Homo sapiens: one gene and its partners. The protein of the gene in region 1 interacts with the protein of each later gene in a pairwise test. Each region holds a gene or a part of one and is shown in the gene's direction. Other genes may lie near its edges. The genes, in order: PPIL1, PPP1R8 and THOC5.

Evidence for each region.
Region 2: the proteins of PPIL1 (region 1) and PPP1R8 interact in a two-hybrid assay, tested with the Homo sapiens proteins (one large-scale study listed by BioGRID and IntAct).
Region 3: the proteins of PPIL1 (region 1) and THOC5 interact in a two-hybrid assay, tested with the Homo sapiens proteins (one large-scale study listed by BioGRID and IntAct).

The regions. Positions count from the first base shown.
Region 1 is NC_000006.12:36,864,749-36,868,481, reverse strand, and holds part of PPIL1 (peptidyl-prolyl cis-trans isomerase-like 1), read left to right. Parts: intron 1-3,733. UniProt on the Homo sapiens protein: Involved in pre-mRNA splicing as component of the spliceosome. PPIases accelerate the folding of proteins. Catalyzes the cis-trans isomerization of proline imidic peptide bonds in oligopeptides. Catalyzes prolyl peptide bond isomerization in CDC40/PRP17.
Region 2 is NC_000001.11:27,849,899-27,852,329, forward strand, and holds the end of PPP1R8 (nuclear inhibitor of protein phosphatase 1), read left to right. Parts: intron 1-194; coding exon 195-548; 3' UTR 549-1,778; downstream 1,779-2,431. UniProt on the Homo sapiens protein: Inhibitor subunit of the major nuclear protein phosphatase-1 (PP-1). It has RNA-binding activity but does not cleave RNA and may target PP-1 to RNA-associated substrates. May also be involved in pre-mRNA splicing.
Region 3 is NC_000022.11:29,515,758-29,519,257, reverse strand, and holds part of THOC5 (THO complex subunit 5), read left to right. Parts: intron 1-137; coding exon 138-252; intron 253-1,891; coding exon 1,892-1,995; intron 1,996-2,141; coding exon 2,142-2,229; intron 2,230-3,500. UniProt on the Homo sapiens protein: Component of the THO subcomplex of the TREX complex which is thought to couple mRNA transcription, processing and nuclear export, and which specifically associates with spliced mRNA and not with unspliced pre-mRNA.

The DNA.
Region 1 (3,733 bases):
TTTTTGATTTCTATTTCTGAATATTTTCTCTGTTATACTTACTGGATTTTCTATTTCAGGAAATATAGTTATTTGTTTCATCACCTTTGCCTTCCATATCTATCATATTTCTTTTGATTGTGTGATAGGATTTTTTTTTCTTTTTTCCCTGCATTCACTAAAATAATCTCAGACCTTTACTCTGTGCCTTACTCAATTTTCAGTCATTTTTATTCTGTTCTTTACTGCTCTAATTTATCTACTAGCTCATTACTGATGCCATTTGAATCTAAATTTGTTTCCTTCACTCTGCAATCTTTTCATCTTATTCTGTGGTGTATTATCTTGTCTTTGAGCTTTTGTTATATTATATTTTTACTTCTCTTGAATCATCCATAGCTTGAGATAGCCATGGAGAAGCCACTTTCTCCCAGGCTGAGTTCCTGGGTTTTCTTTTCCTTTCTCCCCTCCTCCTTTCTGTCCTTCTGTTGGTTGTGGTATGTTTGCCTAGTTTCCATGCCATTTGTTTTCATCTTATCCATGCTTGATGTCAACACCTACATTATCCCCACCTTTTACTTGCTCAGATACAGTGTAAGTGGAGTCTCCTTGTCATTCTCCCCACTTATGTGGAACTGGTTGTCTTCCCCACTTCAAATGTTAGGTTGCTTTCTCTCTATTCTATTCTAGCCTGAAGAGGTGTGGGAGAGAACTGGAGCTCAGCTCATGCTGAGCGAGCCCCTTGTGGGAGGGCTAGCCTCTGTTCTATCTTCCCAGACTCCCTTAAAGTCTTGTCCCAGAGCCCCCTCCACCAGCCAGTGGTGTCCCTCTGTCACCACTCCAGGCTCTGGGTAGTCCCCAAGTATGGCCCAGCACCCTGGAAGGTGGCCAGCCCTGCGTGCCTGCCCTGCCACTCCCGAGCCCCTGTGATATGTGTGGGCTTCTGCCCTCAAGGGCTTTGTTTTCAGAGCTGCTCACCCACTCCCCTGTTGGCTGTTCAGAATCGGAGGGTATTTGTGAGAATCTCAGCATGACATTTCTTTCCTGGTTACTGGTTTCAGGGAATACAGATGGAAGAATTTTCTATTTTTTCCTCTTGGCTGACTCTTTTTACAATTTTAGCATGTTTGGTTCCCTTTTCTTATTTGGTTGATGCTGGTGAACTTTTGACTTTTTAATTTTTAATTTTTGTATGTTCACTTTATTGGGTGTTGGGAGCATGTGGTAAACGTGCCTGATAGCAATAACTGAAACATACCCTTAGAATGACCCTGTATGGCAGACGCATCTGAATGTGTGTTCTGAGCTAGGGAATCCAGGAGTAGCCAACCTGGAGGTTCCTTCCTTGTCTATAAAGGGACATCTGAGCCCCTGGCTCGTCCTGTGAAACATGGGCCGCACACGGGTTGAGGCCCCGAGTTTTGAGTTGAATGAAGATTGCCAGGTGGAGATTGTTAGGGAGAAGGTGCTAAGTGGAAATGCTATATAAACTGCATGCTTTTTGCAAGCCATTGTGGTTCTCCGCCACCATTGGACTCTCTGCCCTGTATGTAAGTCCCCAATAAAACCCCATGTCTCATTTGCTGGCATTAGGTCTCTTCGGTCTATTGAACCTGATGCCATCCCCATTGGAGTCAATAGAGGTTCGGCACAACAGGGAGGCAGAGTCTAGTCCTGCTTCATTCTACTTTCTTTGTCTGAAAGGGTTCCGTCGGTACTTCGATGTACTTCTTTCCTGTCTTCTTCCTCTCTCCCCCTCATGTTGTTATGAAATAAATTTTAATTCTTAATACCAGTGAACTGAGAGTCCATGATTAGGGTACAAGTATTGGAAGTGACTCAGGTGTGAGTTGCTCATGCCACAGCTTTTCTGTATTTCTGTAGTTGGTTCATGATCCTTCATAATGTCACATTTCCATGGTGTAATTTTAATGAAATTGAATCACTCAAAAGATCTTCAAATAACTGCACCCAGCCTCAAGTATAATGAATGACTGAGCAGCCCACTGGCAGGTCTATGGTGGAAGGCAAGCAGGAGTTAGGCTCTCCTGGGTCACTAGTTCATATTTTCTAGCTGATTAGGTGACACGTTTTTTGTTAAACATCTCAGATGGGCAGCAAATGACATCCTGGGCTCTTCAGCAAGTTGATGTACCACTTCCATTCCCAGCTGTCCCTCAGTCTGACTACTGTGGAACCATTCTTTCCACATGCTTTCTTGTAATACATCTTTGCCAGATGCCTTGTCAATTCAAATACCCTTTGACTTCCTGCTTCATTTCATTTTAAACCATTTTTCTACCTTCAACTTTCCCATATTATAATAACTATAGAGGCTCTTTCCTTAGCCCTCTGAGTGTCTTTTATTTGTTTCTACTAACCTTTCTGTCCTCTCTGTAAGACATAACATCCTGTCAAGTTCTTCCTTTAGCTCTTCCTGCTCTGCACTTGGCCTCACAGTGCTCACCAGCTGCTGTGATTAATTATATGCTGATTATCCTGTGCGTCACTCTCACTTTGATTTCATCTCTCCTCTTGGTAGCCCCAGGAACACCTGAAATGTAACGTGTTGAACAGCAAGCTCTGTTAATTTTATTCATTTGATGAGTATTTGCCAAGAGTCTGCTGGGTATCCTGTGCTATTCTAAGGCCTGGGAGAAGCACTTAAGCATTAAAAGCCAAGGCATTTTCTTTTTCCTTGCAGTTCCCTGCCCTGCCAGGAAACAAACTATTCATTATAAGAAACAACTAGAATGGGATAATATAAATATGCAAATGTATGATAGTACGGTGTGGATTATGTATATAATATAGGTTGGAGTAATTCACAATAAGGGAAAAAGCACAATGGAATGAGATTAGGATGGGAAGGAGGCATATGCGAGATGGGTCTTGGGAAGTAGAGGGAAGGGCATTTTGAATTTAGGAAGAAGGGTGGGTACAGGGCAGGAGTGACAGAGGCATGCAGGGGTAGGGAGGGAGCCCGCCACCCCCGGTGTCACATCTTCCACTCTAGACTGGCTCTTGTGACATCACCCAGCCACCTCTCCACACCCAGAACAAATGCATCAAATGTGATTCAAAGGCCCCTGTAAAATTTACAGATCTCGGAACTGCCTGTTTAGGGGACAGTAAGGAGCAGTTTGGGGCCAGTTAATGGAGACTCCTAGACAGAGGAGTTCAGATTTGATTGAGCATGACTCAGGGACCATTTGGGACTCTTGAGTCTGGGATAAGACAAATCTGAGGAAATTTCATCCAGCTGTGGACTATGGCAAGACAGTTTGGTTCAGGGTAGAGCAGGACTGTGGAGCTTGGGCTTGCCTTGTGCTTCACATGAATACTTACTAAATGTAGAGGAGTTGCCTTACCCTGCTGAGCCAGCTCACCTGTCGGGAGTGTGGTTACGTGCACCTCCTAGGCTGGTTGTGAGTAGTAAATGAGCTGATGTTGGTACAGTGGTTAGCATGGGCTTGACACAAAGTGGGAGCTCAAACAAATGTGACTGGTTTTTTTTTTTTATTGTTAATTCATTTAACAAATACCTATTAGACTCCTTCTGTAGGCCAGGCACTCTTCTAAAAGCTGGAGATACAACAGTGAATAAGAAAGCCCTCGCGGTGCTCTCATTCTGGTGAGAGACGGAGAATGAAAAAGTACATAATATACTCTCAGGGATGGCAGATGATATGGAAAAAAGAATGTACTGCTGGGATGGAACAGGATTTCTCAACCTAGGCACTATTGACATTTA
Region 2 (2,431 bases), on another chromosome or scaffold:
TGGAAAGGTCTCTTCAAACCGTAAGATTTCAACATCATGAAATAGGTTGTCTGGAAAGGAGAACAGGCTAGAAGTTAGGAATCTTTCCCAAAAGCCATTTTTTTAAGGCTGGAATAGAAAAAGCTAACCACTCTTGGGCCTCACCTCTTGTCTTCTCTCTCCAATCTCTCCCCTCTCCTCATCGTGAACTGTAGAAGAAGCGTGTGGAGGGCCCTGGCTCCCTGGGCCTGGAGGAATCAGGGAGCAGGCGCATGCAGAACTTTGCCTTCAGCGGAGGACTCTACGGGGGCCTGCCCCCCACACACAGTGAAGCAGGCTCCCAGCCACATGGCATCCATGGGACAGCACTCATCGGTGGCTTGCCCATGCCATACCCAAACCTTGCCCCTGATGTGGACTTGACTCCTGTTGTGCCGTCAGCAGTGAACATGAACCCTGCACCAAACCCTGCAGTCTATAACCCTGAAGCTGTAAATGAACCCAAGAAGAAGAAATATGCAAAAGAGGCTTGGCCAGGCAAGAAGCCCACACCTTCCTTGCTGATTTGATATTTTTGGTCATGGAGAAGGGTGGGATTGGGTGGGAATGGGGTGGAAGGGTGATGGGGAGCTAATGAACTAGGGAGAAAAACTTTCCATGTGTGCGGTATCGTCTTTCAGAATGTCTCCTGGCATCCTAACCATGTAATATGACAATTGGGGGTGGGGTTGAAATAGCCCATAAAGACCTGTCTTCACAACACTTGCATTGTAGAGAAAGGCTTCTTATATCCTTTTCAATAGACTGCCCTGGCTCTTTCCTAGGCCTTCCACTACCTCCTTTCTTTCTCCCACTTTCTAGGATCATTTTTATGTAAAGTCACATATCCCAGGCCCTCAGGTTGAATCCAGAGCTGTAGAGGTTACAGTAGCATCACCAGCCTTGGGGGTCCAGAGCCTAATTTATATTCACTATCCTTCCAAGTCCCGGGTAGCAGAAGGGTTGCCATAGATCTCAGTTTGATCAAAAAGAAGGCTTAGAATTCTGCAGTTAAGCTGAGGTTTAAACTAAAAAATGTTTCCTTGGGTCAGTGGTTTTGAGGTCCAGTAGCTAGGCTTTTCTCTTTTGTCCTTCCTGTTGGAATGAAAACATTTCGATTTTCCTTCATCTGTGACTGGTGCCATAGACACAGGTTTATAGTTTTAACTTACAGTATTGTTTGAAATTTACCTGTTTTTCTTGTCAAACCTGAGCACTCCTCCTGCTGAAGTTTCTTATTTAATTCCAGAGTACTGTCCTCTACTCTAAGGCATTACTTTTAAGTGTATTATGAAGGCAGTTTTCAAAGGATATGACCAGTTGGGGTAATTCAAATTAAAAAGGAAAAGATTTGTTTGGAAGTAACTGGTGTCTCTAAGAGGAATTTTTAGATGTCAGTTTGGAGGCTCTTTCCCCCCTCAATTGAGAGCTCTTGTTATTCAGAGCTCCAAGACTAGACCTGGCTAACAAACATAGGAGACAAAGTTAGGAAACATTGATACAAGCTTTGTACAGAGATTTGTACATTTGTGTAATAGGCCTTTTCATGCTTTATGTGTAGCTTTTTACCTGTAACCTTTATTACATTGTAAATTAAACGTAACTTTTGTCATTTGGGTGCAGGCTGTGAATTTGTCTCTCAGTCACTGATTGCCACTGCCATCTGGAAATGTTTGCTAAAGGCACAGTCACTGGGCTTGGGAGGCAATGCTCCATCCCCATTATATTACAAATAAAGATGCCCTAAATGAGTGTGGAAATTCTAATGAGAGAATGTAGTCCCCAGACTGAAGCCTCACAAAGCAGCGTTGGTTCGGAAGTGCTTGGTGCCCTTCATCAGGAGACCTCATGACGGGAGACGGGGCTTTAGGGCGTTTGCATAAGCCCTATCACCCACCCTGCAGTTAGAGCTCTGTGCATTTGAGCCATAGCTTGGTGACACAGGAGCAAACGGAAGCTAAAGGTAAGTAAGTTTAGGAGGGATTTCAGCAAGAATTTGAATTGAAGGAATATGCCTGCATACGGAATCTCATTTGCAGTAAGTATACTGTGTTTGTGAGACTTACATGTGGCTTTGAGATGAAGATGCCAGCTAGGTTCCAGATCCTTGGGTCAAGTGCAGACTCGTAGGAGGAGCAACCTTCTGAAGAACAGAAATTCATAACATCAGCTGTGCAAAGAGTTGACTTCCCCACAGGGTCTGTAAAAATGAGTGTCTCCCTCTCCCCCTCCCCCTCCCCCTCCCCCTCTCCCTCTCCCCACGGTCTCCCTCTCATGCGGAGCGGAAGCTGGACTGTACTGCTGCCATCTCGGCTCACTGCAGCCTCCCTGCCTGATTCTCCTGCCTCAGTCTGCCGAATGCCTGCGATTGCAGGCACGCGCCGCCACGCCTGACTGGTTTTGGTGGAGACGG
Region 3 (3,500 bases), on another chromosome or scaffold:
TTGCCATGTCTAAAGGGTACCCATCTTGGGGCATGGATAATCCAGGGTGCCGCAGACAGGCAGGTCCCAGGAGAGAGATGGTGCCCGGAGGAAGGGATGGGGGAGCACACGTGTATGTGTCTCATTGTCACTCACAGCAAACAGTGATTGCTGACCACTCGCTGAGCGCCAGCCACATGGAGACCACCATGAAACTTCTGAAGACCAGGGTGCAGTCCCGCCTGGCCCTCCACAAACAGTTTGCATCCCTAGGTAAGCTGATGATGGGGCAGTGGTTTAAGAGTCACTCAGACAACACACGGACAACAACAACTTAGCCTTTCACTCAAAACTTGAATCCTGATGACAAATACAAGACCTGGATTCCTGGCTTTACGGAGTGGGCATCTTGGCAGAGCCACTGGGGAGAGCTCCAGGCCTGTCCAGGCAGAGGACCGAGCTCCCCCTTAGAGCCATCAGTGCTGTCCTGCCTCACAGAGGAGGCCCAGAGCCATTGGGTGGCACAAGTTTGTGGACTGGTCGGGGCAGTTCATCCTAGGTCATGCATTGCAGATTTTGATGTGCATTCGACACATATTTAGTGAGATCCTGATTCATGCCAGGCACTGAGCATAGTGCTGGGGGAAGAACTGAGCACAGTGAACCCCTGCCCCTGGCTCTGTGGCTCACAGTCAGCTTTTTGAATATAGCTATCCAGGGAGCAACTCGCATATCCCTTCCCCAAGGCCTACTGACCTCGTGTTCCCCAGGGTGAGGCTGAGCCTATGTTTTCTTCTAAGCTCCCAAGTGATAATGATGAGCCACTGACTTAGGTGGTGGCATTTGGGGGCTTCTTTTAGTTTATTCACTCAGTAAGTGGTTGTCAAATGCTTACCATGTGGCAGGGGGATGGGGTCAAGATTTTTCTGACCTAAAAGAGTCTCTGGGACAGGCGCAGTGGCTCTTGCCTGTAATCACAGCACTTTGGGAGGCCAAGGCAGACAGATCACTTGAGGTCAGGAGTTCAAGACCAGCCTGCCAACATGGTGAAACTCCGTCTCTACTAAAAATACAAAAATTAGCTGGGCATGGTGGTGTGCACTTGTATTCCCAGCTACTCAGGAGGCTGAAGCAGGAGAATTGCTTGAACCTGAGAGGCGGAAGTTGCAGTGAGCTGAGATCGCATCACTGTATTCCAGCCTGGGCAACAAAGCGAGACTCCATCTCAAAATAAAAAGTAAAAAATAAAAAAGAGTCTCTGTCAGGAAAGGCATTGGGTTTCCAGGACACATCTGGAGACCACTCCCCACCAGTTCTTAGACTCCACATGGCTGCCGATCTCTCCAGAGCACTGATGTTTGTCCATCGGGCCGTGCTCCCCATCAGCACTGCTGAGTTTGTTTTGTCCCAAGGTAGGGAACTTGTCATTCTGGACAGTACTTACTGTGTTGGCATATTTGCTTATTTAAATGCCAGCAGGAATTTACCCTGGAGCAGTTATCTGGCTCTTCTCCCTGACACACAACACTTCAGTTGTTTCCTCCATCAAGGTCAGCTATGAAAACACAGGCCTCTATGCTATTTGATCTAATTAACAGTCACTGCTGCAGGGGCACCCTCCCTAGTTCTGACTGTAAGGGTTTTTCTTTGGCAGGCTATCATTTGCATTAAAGAGAAAGCACCATAAGTGCTGGCACTGGATCTGGCCACAAGCACATAGCACTGGGTGAAGGTCAGGTTGACATGCTTGCATTCCTGGCACGTGTTGACCTGGGTACTTCCTGAGTACCAGGTATACCAGGATAGCTGGCCGGGCCATCTGAGCCCTTCAGAGAGCCCCAGGAGGATGCTAGTTACCCATCTGTGGCACCTGATTTCTACCTGTGACGTCATCTGTCTTGTTCTCTTTTAGAACATGGCATTGTGCCAGTTACCAGTGATTGCCAGTACCTCTTCCCTGCCAAGGTTGTCTCTCGCCTGGTGAAATGGGTGACAGTTGCCCATGAGGATTACATGGTAGGTGAAGGAGTGACAAGTTACCCTTACTGTCCTGAGGATTGCAGGACCATGTCACCTTTCAGCTCCTGCCACCTCACTGGAAGAGCAGGGGGTTTAACCAGAGGAGCCAGCAGTTCACCTCTTGTCTGTGGTACCTCTTCTAGGAGCTGCACTTCACCAAAGACATTGTGGATGCGGGACTGGCTGGGGACACCAATCTCTACTACATGGCGCTCATCGAAAGGGGCACAGGTAATTGCTCTGCTGATTACAGGGGTTCTAGACAAAGGGCGCTGCCAAGAATCAAACACTCTCCGGGGCTGCCCAAAGCAGAAGATCCTGGAGTCCTGCAAGGACTTAACAGATAATAATGATCGTGAGAGCCTGTTCAGCAAGGACTCATTCTGCAACACAGTCACACACACGCTGTGTATCACTGAACCCTCACTGCAGTCCTAGGGGTGGTGCTTTCATTTCTATTTTACATGGGAGGAAATTCAGGCTTAGTTGCAAGCCCAGTCTGAGCGCTGAGCCTGAGCTCTTTGCTCCTTCCTTCACCGCTTTCTAGTACCGGACATCTCCTCCTTCTCCCTCTTCATAACAGGGCTGAGGTGTCACCCTCAGGTTGTAAAGGGCAGGGCCACAGGGCCTCGCTCCCTCTTCTGCAGTCCCTGCACTCACTTTAGAGGCATTGAAAGCTCTGATTCTTCATACCTCTTCTGGCATCTGACTCTGCCAGGGCTCCCTGCTGAAGTCCTGGGATGTTGTGTTTGGGCCGTTGTGCTGTTGTCCCACCCAAGCCGCAGCAAGCCTGGCACTGCCCGTGGGATCTGACACCCTCAAGACTTGGTGCTGAGCTGAGGAAGTTGTCTGTAGTTCTAAGACAGTTCCAGAACTGTAAGGAAAGGCTGAACTCTTTGGTATCAGAGTTTCTGTCCTCACTACCCCACTTTCTTCTCTTTCTATTCTTCATGTCTTTTAAAAAAAAAATTCTGAAGAAACTGAATATTTCAGATACAGTTGAGGCCTCCCTATCCCACTTTATTCCCTTTCTCCTAATAAGTGACCACTATTTGGATTTTATGCATTTGCTTTCCATCCTTTCCCCGCTACACCCTTTTTTTTTTTTTTTTCAGTAGAGATAAGGTCTTGCTTTGTCGCCCAGGCTGGAGTGCAGTGGCACGATCATAGCTCACTGCAATCTTGAACTCCTGGACTCAAGCAATCCTTCTTCCACCTTAGCTCCCTGAGTAGCTGCGACTACAGGTATGCTACCATGCTCAGCTAAGATTTTTTGTTTTTGTTTTTGTTTTTTTGTAGAGGCATGTTCTTACTATGTTGCCAAGCCTGGTCTCAAACTCCTGGCCTTTCTTCCAAAGTGCTGGGATTGTAGGCATCAGCCATCATGCCTGGCCTCTCCCCTTTCAAAATTTAATTTAACTTATTTTTTGAGACAGGGTCTTGCTCTGTTGCCTAGACTGGAGTACAGTGGCTCAGTCATGGCTCACTGCAGCCTCAACTGC